Linked DNA regions of Homo sapiens. The gene in region 2 interacts genetically with the main gene of each other region. Each region holds a gene or a part of one and is shown on either strand. Other genes may lie near its edges.

Region 1 (3,500 bases), about 150 Mb from region 2:
ATTTAGCTGGGGCCAGGAGCGGTGGCTCACGCCTGTAATCCCAACACTTTGGGAGGCTGAGGCAGGTGGATCACTTGAGGTCTGGGGTTCGAGACCAACCTGGTCAACATGGCAAAACCCTGTCTCCACTTAAAAAAAACTAGCTGGGCATGGTGTTGGGCACCTGTAATCCCAGTTACTCGTGAGGCTGAGGCAGGAGAATCGCTTAAACCTGGGAGGCGGAGGTTACAGTGAGCCAAGATCGCGGCACTGCACTCCAGGTGTCACACTCCAGCCTGGGTGACAGAGCCAGACTCTGTCTCAAAAAAAGAAAAAAAAATTAGTTGGATGTGGTGGTATACACCTGTGGTCCCAGCTACTCAGGAGGCTAAGGTAAGAGGATCACTTGAGCCCAGGAGGTCAAGGCTGCGGTAAGCCATGTTTGCGCCACTGCACTCCAGCCTCAGTGACAGAGCAAGACCCTGTCTCAAGAAAAAAAAAAGTTGGGTGCGGTGGCTCATGCCTGTAATCCCAGCACTTTGGGAGGCTGAAGCAGGCAGGCAGATCACCTGAGGTCAGGAGTTCAAGACCAGCATGGCCAACACGGTGAAACCCCATCTCTACTAAAATAAGAAAGAAACACTAAACAATACAACCATGAAACTGATCACCGGGATTGCAAATCTAATTGGGAAAAGAGTTGAGCAAACAGCTTGGACTGTTTGGAGTTGTTGCCTTACTTTTTAATATGTATTTATAAAGTATTCCAGCAAAAGAGGATGTAGCCTCTGGGAAAAAACAAACATGTTACAGTGTTTTTTGTAGATTCTCGTTCTATATCTCATCACAGTGCCAGCCCTGTTTTTAGCCGGAAAGGATTCAGGAGAAACATTATTATGCATTCTGAACTGGATGCATATTCCTAACTACTGTATTTGTTACCAAAAGTGGTTCTACAAATGCTACTGAAAAAAATCTGGAAATTCCTAATGTCCTGAGTATTAATAATAAAGTTTAAAAATGCTTTTATATCAAAAAAAAAAAAAAGAAAAGAAAAATTAGCTGGGCATGGTGGCAGGCGCCTGTAATCCCAGCTACTTGGGAGGCTGAGGCAGGAGAATTGCTTGAACCCAGGAGGCAGAGGTTGCAGTGAGCCAACATCATGCCACTGCACTCCAGCCTGGGTGATAAGAGTGAAACTCTGTCTAAAAAACAACACAAAACAAAAAAACGCTGGGTGTGGTGGCTCACATCTATAATCCCAGCACTTTGGGAGGCCAAGGTAGGTGGATCACCTGATGTCAGGACTTCAAGACCAGCCCGGCCAACATGGTGAAACCCCGTCTCTACTAAAATACAAAAATTAGCTGGATGTGGTGGCAGGCACATGTAATCCTAGCTACTCAGGAGGCTGAGGCAGGAGAATCGCTTGAACTCAGGAGTCAGAGAGGTTGCAGTGAGCCTAGATTGCGCCACTGCACTCCAGCCTGGGCAACAGAGTGAGACTCTGTCTCAAAACAACAAAATTAAAATAAAAATTAAAAAAAAAGAAAGCTGGGCGCGGTGGCTCACGCCTGTAATCCCAGCACTTTGGGAGGCCGAGGTGGGAAGATCATGAGGTCAGGAGTTTGAGACCAGCCTGACCAACATGGTGAAACCCCGTCTCTACTTAAAAATACAAAAATTAGGCCGGGCGCGGTGGCTCATGCCTGTAATCCCAGCACTTTGGGAGGCCGAGGCAGGCTGATCACGAGGTCAGGAGATCGAGACCATCCTGGCTAACACGGTGAAACCCCATCTCACTAAAAATACAAAAAATTAGCCAGGCATGGTGGCGGACACCTGTAGTCCCAGCTACTCGGGAGGCTGAGGCAGAAGAATGGCATGAACCTGGGAGGCAGAGCTTGCAGTGAGCAGAGATCGTGCCACTGCACGCCAGCCTGGGCGACAGACAAGACTCCGTCTCAAAAAAAAATTAGCCGGGCGTGGTGGCATGCGCCTGTAATCCCAGCTACTCAGGAGGCTAAGGCAGGAGACTCACTTGAACCCAGGAGGAGGAGGTTGCAGTGAGCCGAGATTGTGCCACTGCACTCCAGCCAAGGCAACAGAGTGAGACTCTGTCTCAAAAAAAAAAAAAAAAAAAAAAGAAAGAAACACAAAGGGAGGGAAAGAGATATATGCTTACACTAAAATATTGAAAACTATTAGGAGCCCATAATTGATACATCTAATTATGGATATGCCATAATTTCTACTTTTGGACAGCTAGATTGTTTCTCATTTTCTTCTACCATAAATAGTCTTGCAATGAACATGTTATATATAAATCCCTATAAATTTTTTCCAATGGAGATTAACAGAGAAGCATTATGAATTTGACTACTATCAAACTACTTCCAGCCAGGCGCTGTGGCTCACACTTGTAATCCCAACACTTTGGGAGGCCAAGGCAGGAGGATCACTTGAGTCCAGGTGTTCAAGATCAGCCTGGGCAACATAGTGAGATCCTGTCTCCACAAAAAGTAAAAACAATTAGCTGGGAGTGGTGGCACACGCCTGTGGTCCCAGCTACCCTCAAAGCTGAACTGGGATGATTGCTTGAGCTGGGGAGGTAGAGGCTGCAGTAAGCTGTAGCCCCAACCTCACTGCAACCTCCACCTCCCCAGGTCAAGGGATCCTCCCACCTCAGCCTCCCAACTAGCTGGGACCACATGTGCATGCACCACTATGCCCAGCTATGTTTTTTTGTATTTTTTGTAGAGATGGGGTTTCGCCATGTTGCTCAGGCTGGTCTCAAACTCCTGACCTTAAGCAACCTGCCCACCTTGGCCCCGCAAAGTACTGGTGTGAGCCACCTCACCCAGCCTGATTTTCTATTTTAAGGCAAAAAAATCTGTAAGCCAAGCCAAGAATCTGTAAGCCAAGAAACAAAAATGACTAATTGTATAAGATTATAGACAGTATTTTCTTCTCTATCCTCACCTGTCTTAGCTGTTTGAGGTCTGACTTGTTTCCCACAAGAACCACAGGTGTATCGTCAGTACGTCGGACTCGATAAATAAGCTGTTTAAACTCACGAACTTCATGGAAACTTCGACGATCCGTGATAGAGTAACAGATGATAAACCCTTCTCCTGCCCTCATATACTGGTCCCGCATGGCTGTAAACTCTGCCTAGAGGGAAACAAGGGTCATTATGTATTGACGCAATCTAGCCCAACTACACACACAATTAGCTATTTCTTTCAGATTAAAGAAAACGCATGTCGATTACCTGCTATCCTGAGTCAGAGTGCATGAAAAATTAAGAGAGATAAACTATTGATCTTCTCTGTGTAGGCCTTCCCCTCCCCTTTGCTAGAGTAAAAAAGCCTTTACTCATAACATTCTGGGATTTAATACCTGTCCAGCTGTATCCAAAATGTCCAGATTGGCAGGCTCATCATCAATACGGATCCTGATCTTATAAGCATCTTCTACAGGAGGGAAGAAAGGTGTACTATAAAGTCATAAATGCCGGA
Region 2 (4,018 bases):
AAAAATACCAAAATTAGCCAGGCGTGGTGGTACGCCGCACCTGTAATCCCAGCTACTCAGGATGCTGAGGCAGGAGAATCGCTTGAACCCGGGAGGCAAAGATTGCAGTGAGCCGAGATCACGCCATTGCACTCCAGCAGGGGTGACAGACTGAGACTCCATCTCAAAAAAGAAGTCTACCACATTTTACTCTGAGACAAGGAAATGTCCACAGGGAAGTGGCCACACACAGAAGTTAACCTAAAAGACAATGAATTCAGAGGACGGACATGAACAAATGTGCAATTTAAAACACAGGCCAGGTGCAGTGGCAACCCCTATAATCCCAGAGCTTTGGGAGGCCAAGGCGGGCTCATCACATGAGGTCAGGACCAGCCTGGCCAACATGGTGAAACCCCATCTCTACTAAAAGTACAAAAATTAGCCAGGCGTGGTGGCACATGCCTGAAATCCCAGCTACTCGGGAGGCTGAGGCAGGAAAATCGCTTGAACCCAGGGTCGGAGGTTGCAGTGAGCCAAGATCGTGCCATTGCACTCCAGCCTGGGCAACAGAGTGAGACTCTGTCTCAATTAAAAAAAAAAAAAAAAGCTGGGCATGGCATAGGCCTCTGGTCCCAGCTACTGGGGAGGGTGACGTGGCAGGATCACCCACCTGAGTCTGGGATGCCCAGGCTGCAGTGAGCTGTGACAGCACCACTGCATTGCAGCCCACACGACAGAGAGACGCCCTGTCTCAAAACCAAATAATAATAATAATCCAAACCCCAAACGTCATTAGAAAAAATTAGGTAATTAGAAAAAAATCCACAAGAGAGGTACAAACAGTATATGCCAGACACAGGCTTGGTCTCCAGCTGCACGGCCAGACGAGACCCAGGAAAGTGTCAGATGCACTTGCGTTTCACAGGACAACAGTCACATTAACATTTAGAGCTACACGTTTACTTGCTTTTGAAGACAAGTGGTTTTGCAGTTCATAACACAAAAAGCTGGTAAACCTTCACTAACTTACATGTACACAGGATGAACTTTCTGTAGGATCCTGTGAGACTCCCACACACCTTCTCATGTGGCTGAATGGGCTTCCCTGGAGCGGGGGAACTGTCCAGGCCGGTGTCTGCCACCCCAGCCCTCCTTTCACAACGGCCTCTCCCTCCTCCTCTACCCTCTGGGCCAGCGGCTGTTGCCTGGACCCCCTCACTGGGCTGAGTGACACTTCACTAGGTCAGACTGGCCATTCACTAACTTAGAAACAGAAGTCACTTGTCTTCTCCCCAAAGGCACTCCAAGCAAGCTTGGGATGGCTTAACCAGACTCCTTTCAATCAAAAATGAAAAAATCCTGCAAGAAAGCTCAACTATGGAAAGTGGCTTCAGTGTAAAATGAAAAAAAATAGAGAAGCCTCTGCACGTGACCCTGGGAGCCAGGCTCAAGCCCCTCGGCAGGACACCCAGCGCAAAGCTGCTCTACTCCACGTGCCACTGAGGCTGAGCGAGGAAAAGTCATGGCAAAGAAACCTGGGACTTAGAAATAGTTCCACGCATGCTCAGCGAAAGAACAAAAGGCTGCATATGAACTGGACAGTGTGGAATGAGCAGACCTGTAGCACGGGAAGCAGCTAAACTGGACGGTGTGGAACGGGCGGACCTGTAGCACGGGAAGCTGCTACAGGCACTGGGAGGAGAATGGGCAGCAGCAAACGGCCTTGGGAGACGAAAAGCGTCTCAAAACCAATTGTGGTGACGGCTGCAACTCCATGAATGTCCTGAAACCCACAGAACTGGACACGCGACTCAGGGAAGTGCATGATTTGTACATTTTATCTCAATAAAAACAATTCTTGATAAAACGGTCAGTCCACCCAAGGAAAGAACCTACACAGTAGAGTTCCCATTTGTCTACAAAGGTCAGGGGAGCTTAGATCCCCGTCCCTGGTCCAGGTATATACACTACTACTATTATTACTACCCTGGCTGGAGTCCAACAGCACAATCTCAGCTCGCTGCAGCCTCTGCCTCCTGGGTTCAAGTGACCCTCCCGCCTCAGCCACCTGAGCAGCTGGGATTACAGGCACACGCCACCACACCCAGCTACTTTTTGTATTTTATTTTTGGAGACAGTTTCATTCTGGTTGCCCAGGCTGGAGTGCAATGGTGCAACTTCGGCTCACGGCAACCTCCATCTCCCAGGTTCAAGTGATTCTCCTGCCTCAGCCTCATGAGTAGCTAGGATCAGGCATGCACCACGATGGCCGGCTAATTTTTTATTTTTAGTAGAGACGGGGGTTTCTCCATTTTGGTCAGGCTGCTCCCAAACTCTCGACCTTGGGTGATCCGCCCACCTCGGCCTCCCAAAGTGCTGGGATTACAGGCATGTGCCACCATGCCTAGCGTTTTGTACTTTTAGTAGAGACAGGGTTTTACCCTGTTGGCCAGGTTGGTCTCAAACTCAACTCGGGTGATCCACCTGCCTCGGTCTCCCAGTATTGGGATTACAGGTGTGAGCCACTGCATCCAGCCCCATGTATGTATACTATTAATTCCCAAAAGAAAATGTGGATGAAACTTTTTTAACAAGAGTCTTGTTCTCTTCCTCAGGCTGGAGCACAATGGCGCAATCACAGCTCAGTGAAGCCTCCTGCCTCAGCTTCCCGAGTAGCTGTGCCACCACACCCACCACATCTGTGTGTTTTTTGTAGAGATAGAGGCTTGCTATGCTGCCCAGGCTGGCCTCCGGCTCCTGGGCTCAACTGAGCCTCCTGCCTCGGTCTCCCCAGGCTGGAACTGCAGGCGTGGCTCGTCTAACTTTACCGAAGGCTCGCATCCCAGTGCTGCAAACCTAGACTCGTACCCTGACAATCCCCAAGGGAGGTTTCAGAGGCACAGGCAGCAAGTCCCTCAACCCCTCAGGCTCACTTCTGGCTTGTGGGGGAAAAGACCAAAATCAGCCATCTAGAGCCAAATACAGTCTCTAACTTATTATGGCTCAATGCAGGATTTTTTCACTTTAGCATGGGGTTACCAGCAGGCAACCTCACAGAAAGTCAAGGAGATTTTGTATTTAAGAAATGAAAGCTGAGAATAGTGGCTCACGCCTCTAATCCAAGTACTCTGGAAGGCCAACATGTGAGGATCACTTGAGGCCAGGAGTTCGAGACAAACCTGGATAACACAGCAAGACCCATATCTAAAAAAATAATAATAATAAATTAAGTATTTCAATACTAATAGGACAACTGGCCAAAATTTATTGAAGGCTTTAAAACACTGTCTCGGGCTCAGTGTGTGCATGTCCTAATTTATTTAATTATCAGAAATTCTGCGAGGTGGGCATGCACAGAGAAACCTAAGCCCTGGCCACATGGCAAGTAGGCAGATGGCAGTGGTGGGGTCCCCCTCGACCCCGGCCCTGCCTCTGAACAAGCAGCATTTTCCTCCCAAGTCACACTGTCCTTCCTTTTTTATTTTTTTGAGACAGAGTCTCACTCTGTCACCCAGGCTGGAGTGCCGTAGCGCGATCTCGGCTCACTGCAGGCTCTGCCTCCCAGGTTCAAGCAACTCTCCTGCCTCAGCCTCCCAAGTAGCTGGGACTACAGGCGTGCACCACCATGCCCGGCTAATTTTTGTATTTTTAGTAGAAATGGGGTTTCACTATGTTGGCCAGGCTGGTCTCTAACTTCTGACCTCATGATCCACCCACCTCGGCCTCCCAAAGTGCTGGGATTACAGGCCTGAGTCACCGCGCCGGCCCGTCCTTTGTCTTGACGCTGTGAACACTCGACCAAGTGCTGCGTCTTATCTTTGGGCCGCATCTTGAACCCCGTCTTGCTTCCACTGCAGTTTACGGCGATGACTTCTGCCAACGCACCGGCTGCTGTGGGGCAGATTTGCTTTCGGGCTCTCACTTGTAACAGTCACTTCCCGCGGCCCCCCTGCACCCATCACTAACCAGGAAACGTTATCGGGGTCCTCCCGACCTGCACATCTCAACACCCCTGAGGCCCCACCCGGCATCGTGC

The links.
Region 1: changes in SSU72 (region 2) and RIT1 together harm fitness more than expected from each alone (negative genetic interaction), as found in Homo sapiens cells (one large-scale study listed by BioGRID).

Annotation. Positions count from the first base shown.
Region 1 is NC_000001.11:155,901,350-155,904,849, forward strand, and holds part of RIT1 (GTP-binding protein Rit1), read right to left. Parts: intron 3,456-3,500; coding exon 3,382-3,455; intron 3,154-3,381; coding exon 2,962-3,153; intron 1-2,961.
Region 2 is NC_000001.11:1,557,633-1,561,650, forward strand, and holds part of SSU72 (RNA polymerase II subunit A C-terminal domain phosphatase SSU72), read right to left. Parts: intron 1-4,018. UniProt on the Homo sapiens protein: Protein phosphatase that catalyzes the dephosphorylation of the C-terminal domain of RNA polymerase II. Plays a role in RNA processing and termination. Plays a role in pre-mRNA polyadenylation via its interaction with SYMPK.